Homo sapiens: one gene and its partners. The protein of the gene in region 4 purifies or fractionates together with the protein of the main gene of each other region. This does not show direct contact. Each region holds a gene or a part of one and is shown on either strand. Other genes may lie near its edges. The genes, in order: CXXC1, MSL3, DCP1B and BOD1.

What was found.
Region 1: the proteins of BOD1 (region 4) and CXXC1 purify together in Homo sapiens (affinity purification with mass spectrometry; 5 studies listed by BioGRID and IntAct, with this or other methods). This does not show direct contact.
Region 2: the proteins of BOD1 (region 4) and MSL3 purify together in Homo sapiens (affinity purification with mass spectrometry; 4 studies listed by BioGRID and IntAct, with this or other methods). This does not show direct contact.
Region 3: the proteins of BOD1 (region 4) and DCP1B purify together in Homo sapiens (affinity purification with mass spectrometry; 2 studies listed by BioGRID and IntAct, with this or other methods). This does not show direct contact.

The regions. Positions count from the first base shown.
Region 1 is NC_000018.10:50,281,819-50,284,700, reverse strand, and holds the end of CXXC1 (CXXC-type zinc finger protein 1), read left to right. Parts: intron 1-138; coding exon 139-323; intron 324-599; coding exon 600-807; intron 808-885; coding exon 886-996; intron 997-1,136; coding exon 1,137-1,186; intron 1,187-1,339; coding exon 1,340-1,436; intron 1,437-1,694; coding exon 1,695-1,847; intron 1,848-1,961; coding exon 1,962-2,108; 3' UTR 2,109-2,354; downstream 2,355-2,882. UniProt on the Homo sapiens protein: Transcriptional activator that exhibits a unique DNA binding specificity for CpG unmethylated motifs with a preference for CpGG.
Region 2 is NC_000023.11:11,753,838-11,761,261, reverse strand, and holds the start of MSL3 (MSL complex subunit 3), read right to left. Parts: upstream 3,026-7,424; 5' UTR 2,999-3,025; coding exon 2,897-2,998; intron 2,681-2,896; exon of another isoform or gene 2,555-2,680; coding exon of another isoform or gene 2,489-2,554; intron 1,616-2,488; exon of another isoform or gene 1,470-1,615; coding exon 1,387-1,469; intron 860-1,386; coding exon 764-859; intron 426-763; coding exon 325-425; intron 1-324. UniProt on the Homo sapiens protein: Non-catalytic component of the MSL histone acetyltransferase complex, a multiprotein complex that mediates the majority of histone H4 acetylation at 'Lys-16' (H4K16ac), an epigenetic mark that prevents chromatin compaction.
Region 3 is NC_000012.12:1,945,538-1,952,478, forward strand, and holds the end of DCP1B (mRNA-decapping enzyme 1B), read right to left. Parts: coding exon 6,879-6,941; intron 3,798-6,878; coding exon 3,549-3,797; intron 750-3,548; coding exon 669-749; 3' UTR 516-668; downstream 1-515. UniProt on the Homo sapiens protein: May play a role in the degradation of mRNAs, both in normal mRNA turnover and in nonsense-mediated mRNA decay. May remove the 7-methyl guanine cap structure from mRNA molecules, yielding a 5'-phosphorylated mRNA fragment and 7m-GDP.
Region 4 is NC_000005.10:173,613,615-173,620,765, reverse strand, and holds the start of BOD1 (biorientation of chromosomes in cell division protein 1), read left to right. Parts: upstream 1-4,115; 5' UTR 4,116-4,329; coding exon 4,330-4,566; intron 4,567-7,151. UniProt on the Homo sapiens protein: Required for proper chromosome biorientation through the detection or correction of syntelic attachments in mitotic spindles.

The DNA of each region.
Region 1 (2,882 bases), on a different chromosome or scaffold from region 4:
GCAGAGGGTGGGGTTGAGGGAGAGGCAGAGGTCAGAGGCTGAATGGGGCAAGAGCCAGAAAGGGCTAGAATGGAGCAAGGGTCTGGGGTCTGGGGCTGACTTTGACTCCACCCTGACCTGACTTGTCTTGCTCAACAGAAGGAGGAGCGATACAAGCGGCATCGGCAGAAGCAGAAGCACAAGGATAAATGGAAACACCCAGAGAGGGCTGATGCCAAGGACCCTGCGTCACTGCCCCAGTGCCTGGGGCCCGGCTGTGTGCGCCCCGCCCAGCCCAGCTCCAAGTATTGCTCAGATGACTGTGGCATGAAGCTGGCAGCCAAGTGAGTCATTCCTGAGAGGTTCAAGGGAGTCAGGAAGTGCATGGTAGGGCCTGACCACAGCCTTCTGTATGTCTACCAGTCAATCAGCTATCCACCAGTCACCAAACAGCCACTACCCACTCACCCATCCACCTACCCACCCACCTGCCCGTGTGTCCATCCAGCCACCATTCCGCCAGTCACCTATTTACTTCTCCTTTTGCCATTTGCGTCTATTTTGCCATTCTCACTTACTGATCACCTCACTCATTCTGTTGCTTGCTACCTTCCCTGCAGCCGCATCTACGAGATCCTCCCCCAGCGCATCCAGCAGTGGCAGCAGAGCCCTTGCATTGCTGAAGAGCACGGCAAGAAGCTGCTCGAACGCATTCGCCGAGAGCAGCAGAGTGCCCGCACTCGCCTTCAGGAAATGGAACGCCGATTCCATGAGCTTGAGGCCATCATTCTACGTGCCAAGCAGCAGGCTGTGCGCGAGGATGAGGAGGTGAGCAAGCAGGGGCGCAGCAGAGCAGGGCCTGTACTTTGTCCTTCCCAGCCTTATTGTTCCTTCCATTCCATGCAGAGCAACGAGGGTGACAGTGATGACACAGACCTGCAGATCTTCTGTGTTTCCTGTGGGCACCCCATCAACCCACGTGTTGCCTTGCGCCACATGGAGCGCTGCTACGCCAAGGTTGGGGTGTCAGACTGAGGGGGCGGACCATGTGGGAACATCAGTGGGCCAGTGGGGGACAGATTTGTTGTCTGGGTGGTGTCTTGGGAGGGCATGCAGCGCACATCCACAGTTCCCTCCATTTGTGCTCATCCCTCCAGTATGAGAGCCAGACGTCCTTTGGGTCCATGTACCCCACACGCATTGAAGGGTAAGTGAGGGTGCCACGCAGTGAGAGGTGGGGGGTTAAGGCGGGGGTCAGAAGTGGGATGTGTGTGGAGCTGGGGCAGGATACGGGCAACCAGCCAGGACAGATGGACCTCCCTTCCCTCCCTCTACTGCCCTCTCTACTCCAAATCCCCAGGGCCACACGACTCTTCTGTGATGTGTATAATCCTCAGAGCAAAACATACTGTAAGCGGCTCCAGGTGCTGTGCCCCGAGCACTCACGGGACCCCAAAGTAAGGTTTTCCCTCAGCTCCTCCCATTTTGCCCCTCCTCCCTGCCTCGCTGTCCCACATTCATCCCTTCCTTCCTCACCTCACTTTTCCTTCACTTTTTCCTCTCAGCTTCCCTGCTGCTTCACCCTCCATTCCTCCTTTTCCATGCCTCCTCACCGTTCCCTGAACCCTCCATTCTTTTCCTTCTCCCTCCTTGAGCCCCCATTCCTATTCTCCCTTATCACCGCTATTCATCCCCCCAACCTGGCCTCCTTGCAGGTGCCAGCTGACGAGGTATGCGGGTGCCCCCTTGTACGTGATGTCTTTGAGCTCACGGGTGACTTCTGCCGCCTGCCCAAGCGCCAGTGCAATCGCCATTACTGCTGGGAGAAGCTGCGGCGTGCGGAAGTGGACTTGGAGCGCGTGCGTGTGGTAGGTTTCTGTGCGGTTTTGGTGCTGCATGTGGTAGGTTTCCATGTCGGACGTGGCCGGGGCAGGCGGGGCTGCAGGTGTTCCTGCTTAGGACTCCTGCCGCTCCCTTGGCAGTGGTACAAGCTGGACGAGCTGTTTGAGCAGGAGCGCAATGTGCGCACAGCCATGACAAACCGCGCGGGATTGCTGGCCCTGATGCTGCACCAGACGATCCAGCACGATCCCCTCACTACCGACCTGCGCTCCAGTGCCGACCGCTGAGCCTCCTGGCCCGGACCCCTTACACCCTGCATTCCAGATGGGGGAGCCGCCCGGTGCCCGTGTGTCCGTTCCTCCACTCATCTGTTTCTCCGGTTCTCCCTGTGCCCATCCACCGGTTGACCGCCCATCTGCCTTTATCAGAGGGACTGTCCCCGTCGACATGTTCAGTGCCTGGTGGGGCTGCGGAGTCCACTCATCCTTGCCTCCTCTCCCTGGGTTTTGTTAATAAAATTTTGAAGAAACCAAGGAAGCTGTCTCCACATTGCTGCGGTTGCAACTGTTCCAGACTTCTGGATAAGATGGGGGGCGCCTGCACCCCGCGAGAGCCCAGGGACCCACATTCCCAGCCTCCCACGGGCAGAGGGTCTACGCAGCGCGCCTTCAGTGTGGTGACACCGCCCATGCATGCTCCTGTCTCCCACCCAGAGCTGTCGTCCGCTGTGGACGCCAGGCCCCGCCTTTTCCCCACAAGCCCCACGTTGGGGATCCGCCTCCTGCAGGGGCGCGCCCTCCCGCGTGCCTCAGTTTACCTGCGGTGTGGCACCGCCCCTTTCCCCGCCCCGCGCGCTCCCACAGCTGTTCGGCGGGGAGGAGGGAGCGGGACACGACCCCCCCTGGGGTTGATGTTCGGAGGGACCCACGAACACAGGATAGACCCCAGCGAGAGGTGGGAGAGGAGAGCGCCGGCAGGGCCAGGGAGTGCGCAGGCGCGAAGCAGCTTCCTTGCCGCGTTCGGTATCGGCTGTGGAGACCGCGGGAGGGAAGGGAGGGCGC
Region 2 (7,424 bases), on a different chromosome or scaffold from region 4:
TCCTACAGTTTCCTGTTGCATTCATAAATGGGACCAAGGCCTGGGAGGTGCCAAAAAGAGAACAGATCCCATGAGAACACACCCATGAGGGGTTTGTACAAAGATGCTGGCCGAGAGGGCAGTAGTCACAAGCATGACTCTGCTAACGTTCTATTACTGATTTACTGACTTATATTGACTGCTACTTTAATTGTCAAAAATAAATGGGGCAAATATTATACATAATGAGCTTGAAGTGTTTCCCTGTCTAGAATTTCAGTGAATCCTTCTCTCAGTCTAGGTGGAAGTTCTTTCAGCCAAAAGAAATGAAGTGAAGCTACTCACAGTTTTCATCATTTTCATCTTTTTCTTCAGTGGGGAGGCCTTTTAAGACAGAGTCCACACCAGGCAACCTGCAGCGCTTCTTCTTTCTTCCTGTGCTCCTCCTGAAAAAGAGTAGCAAACAACTGAAATAAGTTTTGACATTGAACTCGTGAGTCTTGAGATCAAAACAAGATATAATAAACAATGAAATACATTTGAAAAATTATTAAACTTTAGAACATAAATGGTAATTTCCATTTCAGAAAATTATACAATAACCACTCTGAAAACACTGTTATTTAGAATACCATAGGAACACTCTTCCCCTTACACACTTTAAATATTTAAAATTATTTAATAAATGATATTTGTCATTGTATTACTTTTATATCATAAAAATCTAAAACACTAAGAGAAAACACATTGGATAACATTTATATCTTGATTTTTGTATTCTTACAGGCGAGCTACAGCTTTTCTTGCCAATTTACGCTGTAATCTACGATTTTCATCGGTATCACGAAGCACATGATCTTCTGCTGCCCATCTATCCCAGCTAATTGAACAAAAAAGGAAAATTCAGTACTTTAGTTTGATATGAAACAACGACTAAAAGTACCTCAAAGCAATAGAAATGCCCCAGAATTACATTTTTAGAAAACGATTTAAATATTTTAAAATCACAAAGAGGAGGCAAATAAACTGAAAAAGTAACTCATTCAGACACAGAAACAACTGGGGTTTCCAGAATCACCCAGACAGAATCCAAATACAATCGACTTAAAAGTAACTATTCGTCACAATAGGCAAGTTCTGGTAACAAAGTAAAAACAGGAAATGAATCAAACTTCTCTACAAGTGTTTCTAAAACTTAAAGAAGTTTGCAACGCTACAAAGTAAAGACAGGAAATGAAACAAACTTCTCTACAAGTGTTTCAAAAACTTAAAGAAGTTTGCAATGCTACAAAGTAAAAGCAGGAAATGAAACAAACTTCTCTACAAGTGTTTCTGAAACTTAAGTCTGCAATGTTTCTATGCAGCAAAGACAATCAATTTTCAGTCTGGTTTAACAAGTTCACTCACCTTCTGTTCCAACCATTAAAATGGATCAGATATTCTGGGATCTTTCTGCCTTTTTCGTCTTTCCCAACAATAACATCAACAATCTGAAACGAAGAAATATTTCCCACAAATGGCAGAACATACAGAAAATTAGAAGTTAGATCAGGAAAACTAATTCACAGACCCTTTTTTAAAGAAAGCATTCTCTCCTCTTTTAGACCGACAGCCGGGTTGAAATATTTTTCCTTTCATTTTTTTCCCCCAAGTGGACGCCTTCAAAATAGGAAACATCCGTCCAACCACCCCGTGATTGGTCTCTGAGCGTGAGACAGTGTGAGGCTTCTGAAGCCATTGGCCAGCCGATTTGTCACTAAGGAGAGACTCCAGGCTAGATGAAAGCTGCAGCCCTGAGAGCTCTGGGAGTTGTAGTCTCCTGGGCTCCCCTATGTCCAGTGCCAGGATGGCTAGCTGGAGACTCTGGAATCCCTCCCTGTTGTGTCCCTAGAGGGAACAACTAAAACTAATGATGGGGCGTGCCCCCCCCCCTCCGCCCCGAGGAGGCTGGAGGGCGAGGAGAAAGAGGGATAGCAGACGCGGTTAAAAGACAGGAGCAGCAGGGGAGGGAACTGAAGGCAGAATATGCTCATCCCTTTAGGGATGTCCTTTAGCATCTCTAATGGACAGAGCTGTCCAGACATCGCCAAAGACACACCTGGGACTGCCCCTGTCCCTGCCGCCTAAGGCTTCGCCCAGGTGGCCCTAGGAACCCAGGTCTCTGAAATGAAAGCACCTGGGTGCTTTCCTTGGGGATCTGGGAGACCTGGTGCCAACTCCTGCCCGCCACCCAAATCTGAGGAGCTGCAAGATGTGGCTCAGCTCCCGGAGACTTAGGTGGACCGGCCCGGGGCGCGATTCCCATCAACTATGGTCAGACCCACGTAAATCCTTCAGAGTTTGAAAACGTAAATGCTGCAAGGCCCTGGGGTACGAAAACACTGGGCCAACCTTGCCCTCGGGATGGGGTTCACGGCCTACAGGCGGGATGGGGCCTAAACTGGACTAGGGTCCCAGGGACACAACGTCGCAAGTCAGCGGCCAGCGCCGTGTAACTATGAATTAGAACCTGGATCGGACGGCCAGGGCGTCCCACAGGAGCCCACCCGGCACCAGGCCGCACAGAAGGAGACATTTAACGCGAAGACAGAAACCGTATTCGAGAAGCCTCCTCCCTCAGCGGCCACCGTTGCAGTCGGGGGCGCAAACGGTAGCCCCGGTAACGCGACAAAGCATGGGCGAGGCTCCCAACCGCGCGTGCGCCGCCCGGCCTGACGGAAGGAAGTGGAAGCATCCCAGACCCCGCCCCGACTCCCGGGCGTAGCGCCCTGTGAGCGCCCCCTGCCGGCCGCACCGCTCCTCGCAGGCCGAGGAGCCCGGCCGGTCCCTCAGCTCCGCGCGGCCGTCCGCCCCCGCCCCCGCCCCCGGTCCCGGGTCCCCCAGCCCGCGCCTCCTCCCTGTCCCTCCGCGGCGGCACCTTGGCATCGTACAGCACTCGCGCCTTGGTGGGGTCAGGCTCGAAGCACAGCACTTTCTCCCCTGAGTGGAATTTAAATTTCATGCCCTCGCTCGCGCTCATTTGCTCATCGTGGCGGAGGGCGAGGCTCCGGGGCGGGCGGAGCGCGCGCGGTGGGGGAGGGCGGGCGGGGGCGGGGAGGCGGTGCGCCGTGGCCGGGGGGGGCCGGGAATGGCGGAGGCTGCGGCCGCCCCGCCCTCGGCCCCTCCTCCGCCCGCCCCGAGCCGCTGCCGGGACCTCGGAGGCGCCTGGCGCGCGCGCTCCCGCCCGGGCGCGTCCCCGCACGTCCCCGCCGGGGCTCCGGGAGGGGTGCGGGCGGGGAGCGCGACCCCCTGGCCAAGGTCTACCGGCAGGACGTCTCCCGTCGCCCCCATGGGAGAGGGTCCCCGCGGCCTCCAGGCTGCGCCCACGTGCGCGCAGGGTCGTCCGTCGCCCCGAGCGCCCGCTCTCCGGCCCGGGCGTGGGAGGCGCCTAGGGAGAGAGAGAGCCGGTCTGGAGTAGGCACCCGGCGGCCGGGAGGCTGGACGGCGTCTGCCCCCAAGAGCTCCCTGGCCGTGCGCGCCGCGTCAGCCCCCTTGGCAGAGCAGCGCGCCGATGAGTGTGGCCACGCTTGGAGAACGCAGCGCTGGAGCTGGCCCCAGGCGGGCAGTGGCCTCGGGCGAGGGCAGAAGGGCACTCCGGGCTGTGAATAGAACACTTGCTTATCCCTTCAGAGGACAAGCCGGTGGCAGGCCTGGAGCCCCCAGTGACGGGTTGAGCAGTGGGCAGCGAGGCAGATGGGTCCTTAAAGAGTAGCTGACGTCTTCAGTGTCAGCTTCTAGCGTGGCCTGACAGCCCCCAGCATCCCCGGAATGCCCCCCACGGTCTATCTGCTCCAATAGACTAAAAATTCCCTAAATAGAAGCACCCTTGAGGCCGCTATCAATATGGTACCTGCACAGAGTGGATGTTAAGTAAATACTTGATGAGCGAATGACAAGTGATGGGAGACTTGAAGGACAAACTTCCAGGGACAGGAAGGACAGTGCTGGGCTTTTTCTTTTGAGTTTTGGAAAGCCGTTGGGCAGTGTAATTACTGGATTAGGACCGGGCTGGAGACCAGCTTCCAGGCTAATCTCTGCGGACCTGGTGAACTTCCCCTTCTCTGTTCTAGCCTCCAGAAAGTTGCATTTGCTTCCCCTCTGCACGCTTCCTTCACCAGGTTCCTGGTATACATCCTTCACATTTCAGCGTGGGCATGCCAACAGAAAAGCCCTCAGGCTTCCCAAGATGAATCATAAAGCCCTGAGGTGTTCCCTCCCAGGACTCTGCTTAACCCCTTTCTTGCATGTACCACTGTGCTATAGAATGGGTTGTTCATTTGCAAAATGACCTCATTAAGACAGTAAGCTCTTTGAAGCTGGGGGTAGGGGTCTTATCCAATTCATCACGGCGTATTCGTGGCACATAATATGGAATGAATGAACAGATTGATTTAGGAAATAGAACCCACAAAACTCAGTGGCCAATTGGATGTGAAGGAGAGGGAAGGAGGAATCTTGAGAGACTTCCAGGTTTTCTGGCCCAAGGAATTGGGTGAGTAATAGCTGCATCCGCCAGAATAAGGCTATACAGAGGAGTTAAAGGTTGGGGGAAGATGGTCAAATGGCCTTTGGGGTAATACGGTGCAGAAACTAGAACTGGAACCATGATTCCTCTCCAGGTTGTGGTGTATCAGAGATGAGAACAGTAGATGGTGGTGTTCCCCACAAATGGCAGGGGCGGCTTGGAAGCACATGTAATTGCACGTCCTGTGTAAACCGTAACTGAAGTATTCACCTTTTTATTTTTCCTGCCCATGATTGGAGAGAGTTCTGCTGCAGGCTCTACCCTTTCAGGGATAGGATTTTAGATGCTTTCCTTTGTTTCTCCGCATTTCCACCCCTTCTTATGTCATTGAGGAATTCCTCTTTCCCCGTCCCTCTAAAAAGTCCAAGAATGCAAAAGCCTTCAGGAACCTAAAAGTTAAAAAGCCTGCCAATGGCAGCACCCCTTACAGTCCTCCTCCAGATTAGGATCCACTAGAGAGGGCTCCACCCTTAATGCAGGACATCATTTTTCCTCTCGGGTGTAAAGGTTAAGAACATGGCCAGCTCTGCAAACCACTCTCCAGGACCCAGTCCCATGCTTGTCACTTTCTAGCTTGTGACCATGGACAACTGGTTAGTCTCTTTGTAATGCACTTTGTTCATGTTTAAAATGAAGGAAATAGTGGCTCCTACTTCATAGGGTTTTTTAGGAGTCAATGAGTCAATTCAGTGTACATGGCTTTGTGTAGTGCCTGACATATAAGGGCTGGGTAAATATTTGCTCTTGACATTAGGCATTTCTTATCTGTTTCTCCGTGTCCCCCATTCATTCATTCATTCATTCAGCAAATATTTATTGGACCTCCTGTGTGCTGGTTGCTAGACACACAAAGTAGAATACATACATTACCCCTGTCCTCCCAGAGGGCACATTTCAGGAGGGCGGAGCAGCAAGCAATCAAGTTCAAGCTTTATGTGCATACCCTGATAAAGCTGGTGTGGAATAGAGGAGACAGAAGAGCTTACTTCTCTCTAGGAGGAGGGAGAGTATCTGAAAAAGCTCCAGAGAGGAAGGCACTCTTGAATTGCAACTTAGGTGTTTTCCTCATTTTCCAGTTTTTGAGGTTTGGACAGTAGTTTCGTCTGTATTCGGGCATGATTATAGAATGGTCTTGTTTTTGTCGGGATTAAGATAACCATTAAATCTTATAACAAATCTTTTTGATTTCTCATTATAGGTCACCTACAGGAATTGCTTCTCTTAGCAAGGTGAGTGCAGTGCGGGATCCAGTTAGTTGCGTCGCCCGCCGCCCCGCTGGCAGAGGCCCAATTTTGTTCAGGTGTTTGCCATCCCACATTGTTAGAGCAGACCTCTCACCAGGGCTGGAGTGACACTTGATCGGGCTAATACGGTAGGACTCACCTCTGGGTATACATTTGGAACAGCTGGGGAACTTTGAAAACTTGTTAAAATACTGTTGCCAGGAGTTGGAATTTTGTTTCCAAAGTTCCCAGGCGATTCCATTGTGCAGGCGGGGCTGAGAACTACTGGTCTAAACCAATCCCGGCAATCCCCTTCCTCTTACAGTGACTGGTTTAAGTATGGTCATGTGATACACGCCTGGCCAATGAGAAATTCTCATAGCGAGTTAAAATGGGGAACTGTGAGTACTTCTGGAAAATATTTTCCACCTGCCTCCCCCCAAAAGAAATACATCTGGCATAAAGTCTCCTCTTCCTCACTGGGTGTTATCATCTGCATCAGAATGCGGCGTTGGAGAGGGTGTCAGTGCTGTAGCCACCTTGGCACCACGGAGCTGGCCATCGTCACTGAGGCTCTGAGGATGAGAGCCCAAGGCTAGCACTCGCTCACCTGGGTCACTGGGGAGCTGTTGAGCCCCTGACGCACTAAATTAACTAATCCTGATGCCTAACGCCAAACTTCTTGCTCTGTGACATAATAAACCTCCATGCAGCAAAAGCATCCTGATCACGCCCCTCCTGCAGTTGTAGAGTTAGGTTATTGGCATCTGGTATGTTGTCTATTGCTAATTTTGGTGATACTGATGAGACAGACCTCTGATGGTGAGAATGCATTTTTCCATGGACATGTAGACATAATTGATGTTGCATTTGAAATATTGTTTCACATGTATTCAGTATTCAGTAGGCTTTGGGAATGAAGGGTAAACCTAGTTACCATTTATGATACGGTTTCAACTAGAATGTCTCTTTTAGGTTAGAAACAAACTTTAAATGAATTTCTGGAACAACCCATTTATAAAGTTAAGAACAATCTATGATCTTACAACTTTGACCTTAGAACTGGATGACCTTACAATTGGATTTTTTTTTCTTCTTTTGGTCTTAGGTGATATGCAGACCTACATCCTAAGAATAATTTTGTGGTTAATGAATATTCTGATAAAAGTTATAGTGATCCTTTTACAAAAGTTGCAATGCTTCTTAATCCTTAATCCTTGTTGGTGCTTCTCAGGTCAAGTGGAGTTGACTTTCACTGCTTCTTGGTTTCCACTCGTAATTCTTCAGATGTTATAGGGATGTAGTTCCAAGGGAAAAACCAAGCTACCTACATTGTGGTTATATTATGAAGAAAGCGTTCCAGAATACTGCCATCAGTGCCCTCCAGCCAAAGACCACTAGGAACACACTTGTTGAACTTGCGTTGAACAAGTTGTATATTGTTTACTTCAGCCAGGGAGAAGGCGCGCCTTGGGAAGTTGTGGGGAGCCTCAGTGAGGGAGTTAGAAAAGGCTTATTGGAAGACTTGAGTTTGTGTTCCATGATTTGGTGGCTTGAAGCCCTTCTCCTTGTGAAGGAGTTAAGGAAGTAAGGTTTTCCTCTGCATTTGATGATGTCATGAAGAGGTGATTTTAGGATTGGGTATTTGATTACATCTT
Region 3 (6,941 bases), on a different chromosome or scaffold from region 4:
CTATAATCAAAGGATTATCATTCCACTATCAAGACACATGCACACGTATGTTTATTGCAGCACTATTCACAATAGCAAAGACTTGGAACCAACCCAAATGTCCATTAATGATAGACTGGATAAAGAAAATACGGCATATATACACCCAGGGAATACTATGCAGCCATAAAAAAGAATGAGTTCTTGTCCTTTGCAGGGGCATGGATGAAGCTGGAAACCATCATTCTCAGCAAACTAACAAAGTAACAGAAAACCAAACACCACATGTTCTCACTCACAGGTGGGAATTGAACAATGAGAACACACGGACATAGGGAGGGGAACATCACACACTGGGGTCTGTCGCGGGGTGGGGGACTAGGGGAGGAAGCGCGTTAGGAGAAATACTAATGTAGATGATGGGTTGATGGGTGCAGCAAACCACCATGGCATGTGTATACCTATGTAACAAACCTGCATGTTCTGTACATGTACCCCAGAACTTAAAGTATAATAATAATTAAAAAACACTTGAGTATAAAAAAAAGTCTGAAACATTTTACTTCATATTACACATACTTTTTTTTTAAAAAAGGCAGAAACATTGAAGGAAACAACACTCAACATGAAAGAACCTTGTGCCGGAGTTCTAGAAGGACCTTGAAAATCAGTTTTAAAAGGCCTTGCTGTCACATAGTCTTTTTCATGGCTGCTTGAGTCATGCTGAAGAGATAGGCTTCATAGATTATATTTAAGAAGTTGTCATCATTCTGGAAAACAAATCGAAAGACCCAAGAGAATGTTACTTGGTTGGCAGACACAAAAGGCTTCCTCTGTCTTAGAGCTGAACTGGCCTTTGGATACTGAGACACTCATCTCTCCCTGTCTAACAGCTGGTGGTTTTTAATTGCATGTGTGAATGTTAAGTGGGGTTGACGGCAAGGCCGGACAGAGCTGATGGTTTTCCATGGTCAGTATGCACAGCAGCAAGAGCTCATTACATGCAGCACAGATGGGCAGCCCAGACACATGGCAGCATGGAGCAAGGTTTACTCAAGAACAGCCTGGGTCTGCTGCATGAAAAGACATGAAGCCCCAGCAGACAGAGGAGTTAGGAGGACATGATCCAAGTCAGTGGTCTCAAAGTTTGGTTAAGAGATTGCTGTGGTGTGTTTTTTTGTTTCTTGTTTTTTGGGTTTTTGAGACTGGGTCTCACTCTGTCACCCAAGCTAAAGTGCAGTAGTGCCATCATAGCTCACTGCAGCCTCAACCTCATGGGTTCAAGCGATCCTCCCACCTCAGCCTCCAGAGTAGCTAGGGCTACAGGTGCGTGCTACCATGCCTGGCTTTTAAGTTTTTTGTTAAGACAGGGTCTCACTATGTTGCTCAGGGTGGTCTTGAACTCCTGGGCTCAAGTGAGCCTCCCACTTTGGCCTCCCCAAGTGTTGGATTACAGGCATGAGCCACTGTGGTTCTTAAAGGCCCTCCAAGTCACCTACAATGTGTCTGCTTTGTTTTGGGCATTACTTAGGATTTTACTTGCAATATGCTTCATCAGTACTTCATCAAAGCTAATATAAGTCTTCCCATAAGTTATGGAAAGTTTCTAGCCTTGGCAAGTGGGCAGGAGTAAGACTGGTAATCTCTGGGCTCTTTTGCCTGGCTAAGGAGTGAGAATCACGGTCTAATCAGTGGTTTTCCTCATGTTTTAATTCTAGAGACTTCTCCCTCCCACCCAAATTCTTTACAGTGTTAGTAATTCACCCACACTTCACATTCCCCCTTCATTCCCTCTTGGCACCCCACACAGATTTAGCATCATTCTCATGCAATGAAGAGAGTGATGTTATCCCTCTTTTTCCTGCAAAGTAGTCACAAAGTTCCTCTGCATGAGATTGTGTCCTAACAAGAGGCAGAAACTAAAAACAGACTGCTTGAGTGACTGGGAATATGAGGTGTGGTACACGGGAAGAAGTAAAATGCACGCAGAGTGGAGGGCAGGGGAATGTAATTTCTAATCCGCCATGTTCAGCCACTACTCTGGAGTAGAGTCTCAAGACAATGTGAAGGGAATCAGCCAGAAAACATATGGATCTTTTAAATTACAACTTAAGAAACTGGCTCAAAGTAAAGAGGTTCACAGATGTCTAATTCCTCCTGAGCTTACTATGAATAGCTTTAAAAGGTGGCAAATATTTTTATCCTGATATTTACTTATGAATTAGTAGGGCTCAATCATTTGCTGTTGACCTTATTTATCTCTGATTGTTATTATGCTTCTGCTGACTTCTAGCCCCATTCCTTTCATTCTTCCTCAAACATGTTTCCTTCTTTTGTAGTCTCGCTATGTTGCTCAGGCTGGTCTTGAACTCCTGGCCTCAAGCAATGCTCCCACCTTGGCTTCCCAAAGTGCTGGGATTACAGGCGTGAGCAGCCACTGTGCCCGGCCAACATGGAACCTTTTTAAAAATGTTGTACTAATTGAGACCACTGTCTTTTTAAGTAGGATAAGACAACCGCAGAAGGGCTGGCCTGCTCTCTAAAGGCCGTCTGATGCTTAAGCAAAGTACCACACAAGTTTTCTTAAAGATTATCTACCAAAAAGACACCTAAATATGTTAACTGGGGTGTCTGAAGTCTGTCTGGCTACAAATGTTCCACTTTTCAAGGACTGCCGTTGATTTCTTGGGTGTGCTTTGCTAGGGCACCTGTGCTGAATGTTCTCCCGAGGCTGGTCCCTGCCAACATTCATGTGGTGAACGTGGCCCACGGGAGAGTACGTGGGAAGTGGCACTCGGGGGCCAGGCTGGGTGCATCCCAGCCCTGCTTATGTACGAGCTCCGTGCCTCAGGCCAGTTGCTCAGCCTCAGTTTCCTTGTCTGTAGAATGGGAAAAATAACAGGGTTGTTATGTAAGGAGTGAATGAGTTATATGCTTGTGTGTAGCACTGAAAATAGGGCCCGGCGCCAGCTCTGTGGAGTGTTAGCTATTATAGCACTCATTATTATTTCATAATTTCATAGGCAAGTGAGGCTAGCAGCTCACAAGGAGTCCTGTCACTCCATCCCGTCCTAATGAGCAGGTTTCAAAATGACTTGTAAAACATACCTGTAGCAGCCATGGCCATTATTTGCTTCCCTCCCTGTTTTCCACTCGCTCAGTGGCCTCTTCCCCACTCAACAGATGGCCCCTTGCCCAGGACTGCTCCCACCTCTACCTCCCAATGGTGAGTTTTCTGTCTGGGCCTCCAGCACCCAGGGTCCTCTCAGGGACTGCTTAATCCCCAGCATATGCTTCCTTCTCTTCTGACAGGTGACAGCTTGGAGGCCTTAGACAGTCCTTCAAATTACAAAATCCTTGAAGAGCTGAGACACCCAAGCCACACTTGGTATTATAAATAACACCTAGCTAACTGAGCACAGAAGCCGCTGGGGTCAGGATGAGTTGTTACACACACCTGTTATTCTCACGGAAGCTAAGCAGGCCTTGGCTGAGTCTTTATCTCATAGTTGCAGCCAGGAGGCCAACAGGCGTGGTCAGGTGCGAAGGGAGATGACGTGCTTGCTTACCTGAATGAGGTACAGCAGTGCCTCCTGGAGCTGGAGCTTGGTGAGTGGGCTGCTGGTGATCACGGAGGGCTCCGGGCTCTGTATGGGCAGGAGGAGGCTGGTGGCAGCAGCAGGTGGCTCCTGGCCTCCCACAGGCAAGAGGCCGCTCTCCCTTTCCTTTGGCGGGACGGAGGTGGGTTGTGCGAACACCATGGGGGACATAAGCAGAGACGGAGCTGCTGTAGCAGGGATGCGCTGAGGTGAGATGACCTGCTCACAGCAAATACACACAGAGAGCGGGGTTCAGGAGCAGCTCACGGCATGATAGCTTGCAGCGGCAGATACGGGTGGTCTAAGCATTCCCTGTCCACAGCTTTCCTAGCTGAGAAAAGTTTATGGGAAACTGATTCTTGCTCCACTGCTCCATGCACCTTCCTTCAGCATCACTGAGCAGCTCTGGTATCGTCTGCTGTGGGGACTATTCTTTCCACTGCATATGCAGCTTGGCCTCTGGGTGACAGCTTATTTTTCAGGCTACCAGTATTTGGCAAGTGCATTTAGGACTACTGACCTTTTCCTTAGACCTGGTTGTCCATGACCCTGACCTAAAGGTCTCACAACCTATGTGAGCTGCCACCCTTGTTAGGGGCCTCCCCATTTCCCCTCCTGACCCCGGAGCACAGGAGGCGCTGTGAGAGCAACTCCCCGCCCCTCCTGCGGCCTCACTCACTTCTCGTGGGGAGGGAGAGTGATGTGTGGGTCCACCCCTTCTGGGTCCTTCCCTGACAGGATCTGCCTGCCTGCAGAGAGCCCTCATCTTCAGCTTCCGCAGCTGATGTGTTTGGGCTGACCCGGGCGGCCTGTTGCTCAGCCCTGCCAGAGCCTGTCTGCTGAGTCTAACTCCCTTGGCAAACAGACCTGAAACCAAGTTTTCTAACAGCCCTTTCAGTTATGCAAGTGACATTTTGATCCTTATCTGACTGACTCCTACAGCTATCATTTGCTTCTAACTCAGGGAAGAAAAAGAATGTTATTTATCAGCCTCCGAACTCCCCGAAAGAACTCCTAAGAGGGAGGCAAGGAGGCCAGCAAGCTAGAAGTTGCTGTAATTTTATAATCAATCCCTTAGCGTCTCTTTGAGCAAAAGTTGGCCTAGAGGAAGGCAGGCTGTTTCTTTTAACTTGTCCCTACATGACATTTCGAGGAGCGGTGCTGAGCAGTGATGCTCCCGGAGGTGGAGTCAAGCATTCTGAGCACAGCGTGGGCTGCTGAAATGCTTGCCTTTCTCACTCGGCTCTTGATATTTGTGAGTACTGAAAAGTCAAGGGAGTTGTACATCAGAAATTTAAGTCAGACTATATTCATCGCATGCTTCTAATTCTAAATCATCAAAGAGGAAAAAAGCAGACATTTTTAAAAAAGGGACAATAACACTGAAATGAGGGGGAGTGGGAGTTATAAATATTGTTTCTATAGCAGTCGGTACTCAGATTTGGGATGTTAATAAATAATAAATGAGAACACTTTGACTCAGGGGCTCACAAAGACTTTTGGCACATGCCTAAGGTCTTTGTTTTCAAAAAACTGAATTTTTTGTTTTGAGACAAGGTCTCACTCTACTGCCCAGGCTGGAGTGCAGTGGTGCAAACATGGCTGACTGCAGCCTCAACTTCTTGGGCTCAAGCAATCTTCCCACTTCAGCCTCCCAAGTAGCTGGGACCACAGTGGCATGCCACCATACCCGGCTAATTAAAAACAAAAAATTCTTGTAGAGACAGGGTCTATGTTGCCCAGGCTGGTCTGAAACTCCTAGGTTCAAGCGATTCTCCTATCTTAACCTCCAAAGTGCTGGGATTACAGGCACGAGTCACCATGCCCAGCCAAAAGTTCAAGATTTTTGAGAAACTGTTATAAGTTACATAACAGGCCAGGTGCAGTGGCTCACGACTGTAATCCCAGCACTCTGAGAGCCCGAGGTGGGTGGATCACCTGAGGTCAGAAGTTCGAGACCAGCCAGGCCAACATCGTGACACCTCGTCTCTACTAAAAAAATACAAAAAATTAGCCAGGTGTGGTGGCAGGTGCCTGTAATCCCTGCTACTCAGGAGGCTGAGGCAGCAGAATCGCCTGAACCCGGGAGGTGGAGGTTGCAGTGAGCCGAGATCGCACCATTGTACTCCAGCCTGGGCGACAAGAGTGAAACTCTGTCTCAAAAAACAAAAAAAGGTACATAACAAAACATGACAAAGGGCCAGTGATGATATATGTGATACACAGGGAGAACTTTCCAATTTTTAAACCCAATGTACTTTCAATGAATGTGTTCCAATCCAAAGGGAAAACAATTCAATGTCAGATCTCCAGATGTTACCCACAGGCAGATGATCAATAGCTTGTGGTTTCCTCACTGTCCCAAGTCAGTGATGGACATGGAAAAGCATCTTCTCTAAAGGAGAGAATCTTTCTAAAAACTGTCATATTTTCCCTCTCTGGCAGTTTGTGTGGGGGGTGGAGGTGGGTGGCATGCATACCTCTCCTGATCTACAGTAGGCTATACTGACGATACAGAGAAAGATAAAAACTGGCTGCACCTTTCAGGAGGAAATAGGCTGTTTTTTGTTTATTTCAAGAACCTACAGCATGGGCTGTGGGTAAGGAGTCTGTTTTCTTCATCATTATGTACCCACATGTAGACAATGCCTGACATGTAGTAAGTGCTCAAAAATATTTACTAAATAAGTGAATAATTTACTGTGGACTGAAAAACAAGAGGAGGTCAGTTGCTTGGCATTCCAGATTGATTTCAAGGCAGACCATACTAAGTTCCTACAGTCAAAAATTACGGTTTTCTCCCATGTCTGTGTTGGTCTTCAGACCTCCTAATATAACGAAGATTTAACTCTACAAGTAATGCTCTCAAAAAGGTTGGGGGAAGTTCTCAGATTGTTAACCAAAGTGAAGATTCTCCTTCCAGGTAGAAAGTTCAGGCAATCAAGATGCACGGAGGTGCACCCTGCTCCAAACAGAAATGTACGTGACACATTGGTCCCTAGAGCATGGAAGTGGACTCTACATTTCACTGCATTATAGTAATACCTTTTTCTTTGTCTGTCTTTTTTTTTCTTAACAGACAGGGTCTCGCTCTGTCACCCAGGCTGGAGTGCAGTGGCACGATCATGGTTCACTGTAACCTCCGCCTCTTGAGCTCAAGGGATCCTCCCACCTCAGCCTCCTCAGTAGCTGGTGCTATAGGCGTGTGACACCAAGCCTGGCTACTTTTTTTTTTTTTTTAGGGACAGGATCTTGCTATGCTGCCCAGGCTGTTTTATTTTGCCCCTGGTACATATTTACCTGGAAAAGAGGAGTCTGCTGTTCTGTGTTGGGTGTCTTGTTGATCCAGGATTCCAAGGGTTT
Region 4 (7,151 bases):
TTGGAGAGATGCTAGTAGTGTTGCTTGGTGCTGGGGATTCCTGTGTATTAAAGCCCTGTTTTTGTTGTTTTTGTTTTTGTTTGTTTTTTTTTGAGACGGAGTCTCGCTCTGTCGCCCAGGCTGGAGTGCAGTGGCGCGATCTCAGCTCACTGCCAACTCCGCCTCCCAGGTTCACGCCATTCTCCTGCCTCAGCCTCCTGAGTAGCTGGGACTACAGGCACCCGCCGCCACACCCGGCTAATTTTTTGTATTTTTGGTAGAGACGGGGTTTCACTGTGTTAGCCAGGATGGTCTCGATCTCCTGACCTCATGATCCGCCTGCCTCAGCCTCCCAAAGTGCTGGGATTACAGGCGTGAGCCACTGCGCCCGGCCCCTGTTTTTCTTCTTAATGCGTATCAGATCCAATCTATCATTAGAGATGCTGGAAAACATCAAAAGGAAACAAACAACAACAACAAAAAAGCAGGGATCAGATGGTGCAGATGTAGCCAAAATGCTATAGACAAGGCAATCTCAAGAAACTCTGGATGCTGTTAATTAAGAAATGAACAGCTGTCCAGACTAAGAATTGGCAAGACTCCTTGGATGAATAAACATAGGTAAGAAGAAAAAGAGCCACCTCATGATCACAAAGAAGGACCAATAACTAGTCTACCCCAAGCAGCTTTGGTGTCTAAATGCAGCCCTGGGCTCAGTCTTAGGGCTCTGGAATGCTCTCGCTTCAGGACCAGGATCTTCGATTAGAAGGTCGGAAGGTTACCAAGGCAACTCCCAGATTATCTTCTAACCTTGGGCCTGCTCCAAGCCCCAGACTCTTAGTCCAGTTTAGTCATATATTATGGACAGATTCCTAGATTGTACTTGACCCCTCTGAATATTGACTATATTCTGACATTTGGTCCAGGGCATTATCAAAAGTCTTAAATGGCCTTATCCTATACCTAGAAGAGTAAATTTCCCATTCACTCATCCTTTATTGTTTTTCATTCATCCGTCATATATTTGTGGAGAGCCTGATGTCCCAGGCACTGTTCTTGGTGCTAGGGATGCAATGATGGTTGAAATGGACAATCCCTGCCTTTGTGGAATTTAGAGGCTAAGAGGAGAAATAGAAGTTAATTAAATCACCTCCTGACCCAAATGTAAATTCATGATGATAATATGTTATTAAACATTTGCTAAAGACCAGGAATTGTGCTAAAATGGATTGCCGAAATGGCACTTAAGCCTCTCCACTGTCCTGGGGAAACTAAGGTTCAGAGGGATGATCCAGCTTTGCCAGCTGGGATTCCAATCCAGTGTCACCTGATGCAAAAAGTCCATACATGTGACTACTTTCTTATATCTCCCTTGGCAAATGATAGATCTCATTTCTTTTCCAGTTTCAGTGAGGTCTAGATTTGGGCTTGGGGAAGTTCTACTTTTTCATGTGGCCTTCAACAAAAAATATTCCAGCACCTAAAATGCGTAATTCTTTGGGGTCGGGCAACTTATTACAGACAAGTTTTAATACTGAGAAGCAACAACAATTTGCTACGTGAAGGATACCTGAAAACCAGATTACTACCTAAGCCAAAGTTAAAACAATGTTCCGCACAGCCATTTCCGAATGTTTTGGATTATTAATACAGCAATGGCGCTCTCTGATGACTGCTGGTGTGTATTACATGTCTCTTGAAGGGAAGAATACATTTTGGATGTTGTGGAGGCCTCCTATTCCACGGTTTGGATAAATAATAAGCCTCCCTTCAGCTTGATCATCTTCACTCCTCATCCCCTTCCCCTTTTATCCCTCATCATTTACTTTGATTGCAGAGGGAAGGTCATGGATACAGAATGCAGCCTTTTGTCAATGTTCAGAGACCCAGCAACCAAGACACAGGTCCCCATGACAGATAGTGAAATTGTCACAGTGTGAACCAAGTGCAGACAATCTCCAGGATCACTTACCTATTTAAGTCATGACAGATTCATCCATCATCTCCTGCTAGAATGCTCCTTCTTTTCTGAAGATTATGGCTACACATAATCCTACCCACGCACTCTGTGATGCTATCCCACAGCTTTAGGAAACAGACAGGAATTTATACATTCTCTTTGAGCTAAGAACTATCGTGCTAAGAGCTGGAGACACAGTGATGAACAAGTCGTGGTCCCCATTCTAAATATTACACCCTATCAGGGGACTCAGGTGGCCAATTTGTCTGTAAATCATTCACTTCCAATTATAATAATTGCTACAAAAAATGAGGCTTTGAGTTTCTGTAGCATGGAGGAAATATCTCATTGGATCTAGGGGTCAGAAGAATTTTCCCTGAGGAAGGAGAGTAAGATGTGGGGTGCCAAAAATGGAGAAGGGACTAGTCAGAGTGATCAAGGGCTTGCAGAAGAAAGAACCTGGGGCTGAGGCAGCCTGAACTGGGCTTCTCCTGGGGTTAAAGGTGAGTGATCAGTGTAGAGTCAACCAGTAGGAACAGACATTAGGTAATCTCAAGGATGGTGAGCTATTAAGAGAGAATGTTTGTCATTAACTGACCCATTGTGAATGATTGAGCTGGTGTTAGAGGATGAGTATAATCCAACACCTGAATGTTTCTTTTGAGGGTTAATTTAAACTCTCTTGGACAGGTGTGGTGGCTCACACCTGTAATCCCAGCACTTTGGGAGGCTGAGGCGGGTAGATCACTTGAGGTCAGGAATTCAAGACCAGCCTGGCCAACATGGTGAAACCCCCATCTCTACTAAAAATACTAAAATTAGCCAGGTATGGTGGCATGCGCCTGTAATCCCAGCTACTCGGGAGGCTGAGGCAGGAGAATTGCTTGAACCCAGGAGGTGGAGGCTGCAGTGAGCCAAGATTGCACCACTGCACTCCAGCCTGGGCGATAGAGTGAGACTCTGTCTCAAAAAAAAAAAAGAAAAAAAAATTAAACTGTCTTGAGTACTAAATATTGGTGTGGAGAACATCCTGGATCTTTGCCAATTCTGCATCTTCGCAGGAGCCAAGGATATTGCAGAATTTGCTATTTACATCCCCTCTGCTGCTTGTGTAAGATGAGGAAACAACAATAGCAGACATAATTGCTGAGGTTGGGAGGGGGAGCTGAGCTAACAATAGGCAAAAGATGAAGGGAAGAGAGGATAATGGTGGCAGCTATAGGATTCCAATGGTGAATTGTGGCTACTTAAAAAAATCAGGATATAAAGCCTTACCTATTGTGGGATACCAACTAGCTCTCAGGATACCTCAGGCTAAAATGCAAGATTTAGATCCTCAAAACCTGGGTTCAAATCCTACTTTTCTACCTCTAGGTATGTGATTAGGTTAACAAACTTTCTTCTGCCTCCATTTCTACGTCTGTAAATAGCAATAATAGTAGTATGTATCTGCTTTTTTAAATTATCGTGAAGAAGTGCGTGGAAAGTGCATAGCATCACGCCTGACACTTTTCAATTATTCAATATTGGCTTATGATTGACAATATTTAATATTTGGGAGGAAATCCACACACATATAAGACAGACTTAAGGAAAACTTTTATTTTCTTCTTCACACTTTTCCGTTATTTTCCAATTTTCTAAAATGAGTATGCATTGCTATTAAAACCAAAAGGAGGGAAACTCACAAATTTCTGAACAATAGAAGTTTGACTGTTCCACTGTTTCCGGAATTTCCCGGAACATGTTGTTCAAGAAGGACGTGGGAGTGCATGCTGAAGCACAGATTGCTAGGTCTCGACCCGTAAATACTGGATAAAAATCTTTAAGAAATAATTCTGGTAATCTATACTTTTAATCAGCTCCACAGATGACTGTTATAATCGGGCACTGCTGGGACGTGTTGATTGAATGGGAAGTGAGCAGAGAGTGGGCGGGGAAGGCCTGGCGGGGAAGGCCTGGCGGGTTGCAGCGATCACGAGGCCTGCGCCTACAGTTCCCATATTACCCCGCGAAATCGCGACGAGCAAGCACGAACCCTGCCGGGAGTTGTAGTTTCTCTCGGCTAGGCCGCTGCCTATAAAGAACGCCGGAGATGGCCACAGAAAACTTCCCGCCCCACAATGCAAAGGTCAACGTTGACGCCATCTGGGGTGCGCCTGGAATCGAGCAGGCCGTTTCTGCCGCGTCCACCACAACCTCTGCTGTATCAGAGGGGGCCTTCGCCGCCGCCGCCCCCACCACCGCCCCTGCCGCCATCGCCACCTCCGCCGCTGCCGCCTTGGGGCCCTCCTCCTTCACCGCCCCCTTCACCACCTCTACACGTTCTAGGCCTTCTGTCCTGGAGAAGAAGCTATAGTCGTTCTCCCTTGTGGGCCCGGGGCGCAGCCATGGCGGACGGCGGCGGCGGCGGGGGAACTGGCGCGGTGGGCGGCGGCGGAACTAGCCAGGCCTCTGCCGGGGCAGCGACTGGCGCTACTGGGGCCAGCGGGGGCGGTGGCCCCATCAACCCGGCCTCGCTGCCTCCCGGCGACCCGCAGCTCATCGCTCTCATCGTGGAGCAGCTCAAGAGCCGGGGCCTTTTTGACAGCTTCCGCCGGGACTGCCTGGCCGACGTGGACACCAAGGTAGCTGCGGCCGCCTGGGCGTTGGGGAGCGGGGCTGCACGTGAGGCCGCCGGGTGGCAGCTTTGATTTTCGAAAGCCGAGAGCAAAACAAAAGATAGCTTAGAAATCTCAGCGGTGAGGTCTTACACCGCTTGGGGCAGTACGGAGAGCTTTCTGAGCGATGCACACGTGGGTTCCTGCCTGATACATTTACTACTAGTTGTGATTTTACCCAGTCCCTTCTCCGAACTTGGGGTTTCAATGTGGGTTTTAGAGCCTAGACCGTATCATTCCCAAGATGGAACTCCTCTGAGGCCCTTAATAACAAACTTCGAAACCAAGTAGATAAGCAAGCGTGCTTTAGAATTTCCACCTGTTCCGTACTCACCACTGAGAAGCTGGCATTAAACACAATGATTTGAACACACAGTCATCACCATTTTATAGCTGTTTATTCCTTTTCTCTAGCTCATTGTTTTGCAGACTAGTACGGCGTTGAATTAAGATAAATTGTAGAAACAGCACCCTTATTTTGCACTTCATCATTGATAAAAGGAGATTTGGTGCCTAGTTGAGATCCTAATGCCATTGGTCAGTCCCACCAGTAAAACGCTATTTCACTTTACCTACTCGTCAGGGTGGTTTGGATTCAATGAAATAATGGGTGTTAAGTATCAGACATACAGTAGTTGCTGGAATGTTCATTTTCTTCCTTTTCAAAACTTGTCTAGCCACGACTGTGGTTGTAGGTTAGGAGACCCTGTCACTGGACTCCTGCAGGGTAGTGATTTCTCCTACCAGAGCCTGTCATGGAAACATTTTGCTTACCTCACAGCAAGATTGTGAGCTTAGAATTAGACCTTAAGATAGGGAAAAACGTAGTCTGTTTATTCGTTGAACGTTTATTGGCCTCTAGTTGCCAAGCTGTGCGATTACAGGAATAAGTCACTACCCCATCCTCAAAACTTATAGTCTAGGTTAGAAAACTGACATGTAAATAAACCAGGTGGTAAATACGGATGTAGAGAGAGAAAGTGGTATACACTGTTCCTTCTCCAAGATGAAAAGCCCAACTAGAAGTCTGTCCTTGAAACAAAGTAATTTAATACATATACATCCCAGATCTGTATTGACAGAGCTTTCACCTTTCCTAGGACAAGTTCTCCATTCATATTTCTTATATTCCGTTAGGTTTTGTGTGTGATTTTAAAACAAAAGCGACTACAGTAGCCCGCCCCATCCAAGGTTTTGCTTTCTGCGGTTTCATTTACCCAATTGTTGCGGTATGGAAGTACTTGTGTTCAGGTAACCCCTATTTTACTTCATAATGGCCCTCAAAGACATTCATGCGTAGTGTATATAGGGTTCAGTACTACCTGAGGTTTCAGGCACCCACTGGGGATCTTGGAACGTATCCCCTGAGGGGGGAGGGGACTACCCTCTTGAGCGGCTGGTGAGGGAGAGTGGTTGGAACCTTCCCATGTACAGCTCCTTAGCTGTTCCTTCTGAGAATTCCAGGTTGTTTTAGTTCTTGAAGATAGTGTTTTTTCAGGCATATCTTATCTGAGACCTTTGTTGCTTCAGCCCAGTGGTTCTCAAAGCGTGGTGCTTGGATTAACATCAGCATCACCTGAGAACTTGTTAGAAATGCACATTTTGGGCCCCACCCCAGACTGCTGAAGTATTTAGGGGAAATTGAACAGATGTCTGTAATTTACTTTGCACTGTAATTTACTTTGAACTGATAAGTGAACAGGTGGAGGGGTTGGTAGTACAGTAAAACGTTATGAGTGGGCTCATGAGTTCCTTTGACTTCTTGAACTGAGATGATTCTGTATCGCCTGGGTTTGTTACGTGTTTTGGTGGTGATGTTCACTGTCCTTTGTCCTTTTTCGGTAAACAGTTCGTATCATCTCAAACCAGGTGCGTTATTTTGAGTAGACGGTATGGCATCAGGATTTATGCTTACAAGGGACAAAAATAATCCTAACTGCTTTATGCAAAGGGGAGAATCTATTGTCTTACGGAATCCAGGGAAGGATTGAACGAACAAACTCTCCCAGAGGGTGGTAGGCGTGCGTTTGGAACCAGATATTCCCCATTCGTTCTGTCTTTCATCTCTGTTGATATCTGTTTTACTGTTGGTTCAGAGTGGAGTCATCCATTTGGTTACTAGTATCTCTTGATTACATTTTACAGCTTCTTCCTCTAGAGAGAGGCTGTCAGCTCCAATCTGGGAAATCCCAGGGAATGTCTGCATTGTCTTAGCGTGGCTCAGGCACCCACTCCTGTGGCACCCTCTGCCCTACCCTTGTGAAGAGAGGAAGACAGTTACTAGAAAGAAGGCGTTACTAGGCAGATAGCACATGGTATCTGTGAATTTTACTCCTCTGCCCCCATTTCCTTGCCTTTCTCTTTTCCAGGTTTAGTGGAGTCTTTGAGTTTGCTCTCTCAACCTTTTGGAAGAGGCCAGTCATGGAATTGAGGCCTGCTGGTTCCTTTGTCAACTTCATTTCCCTGACTGTTAGCAAACTTTGCCGCAGTAATGCTGCATAGCAAACTGAATCTCAGCAGCTTATAACCAGCACTTGTTCACATGTTCATGG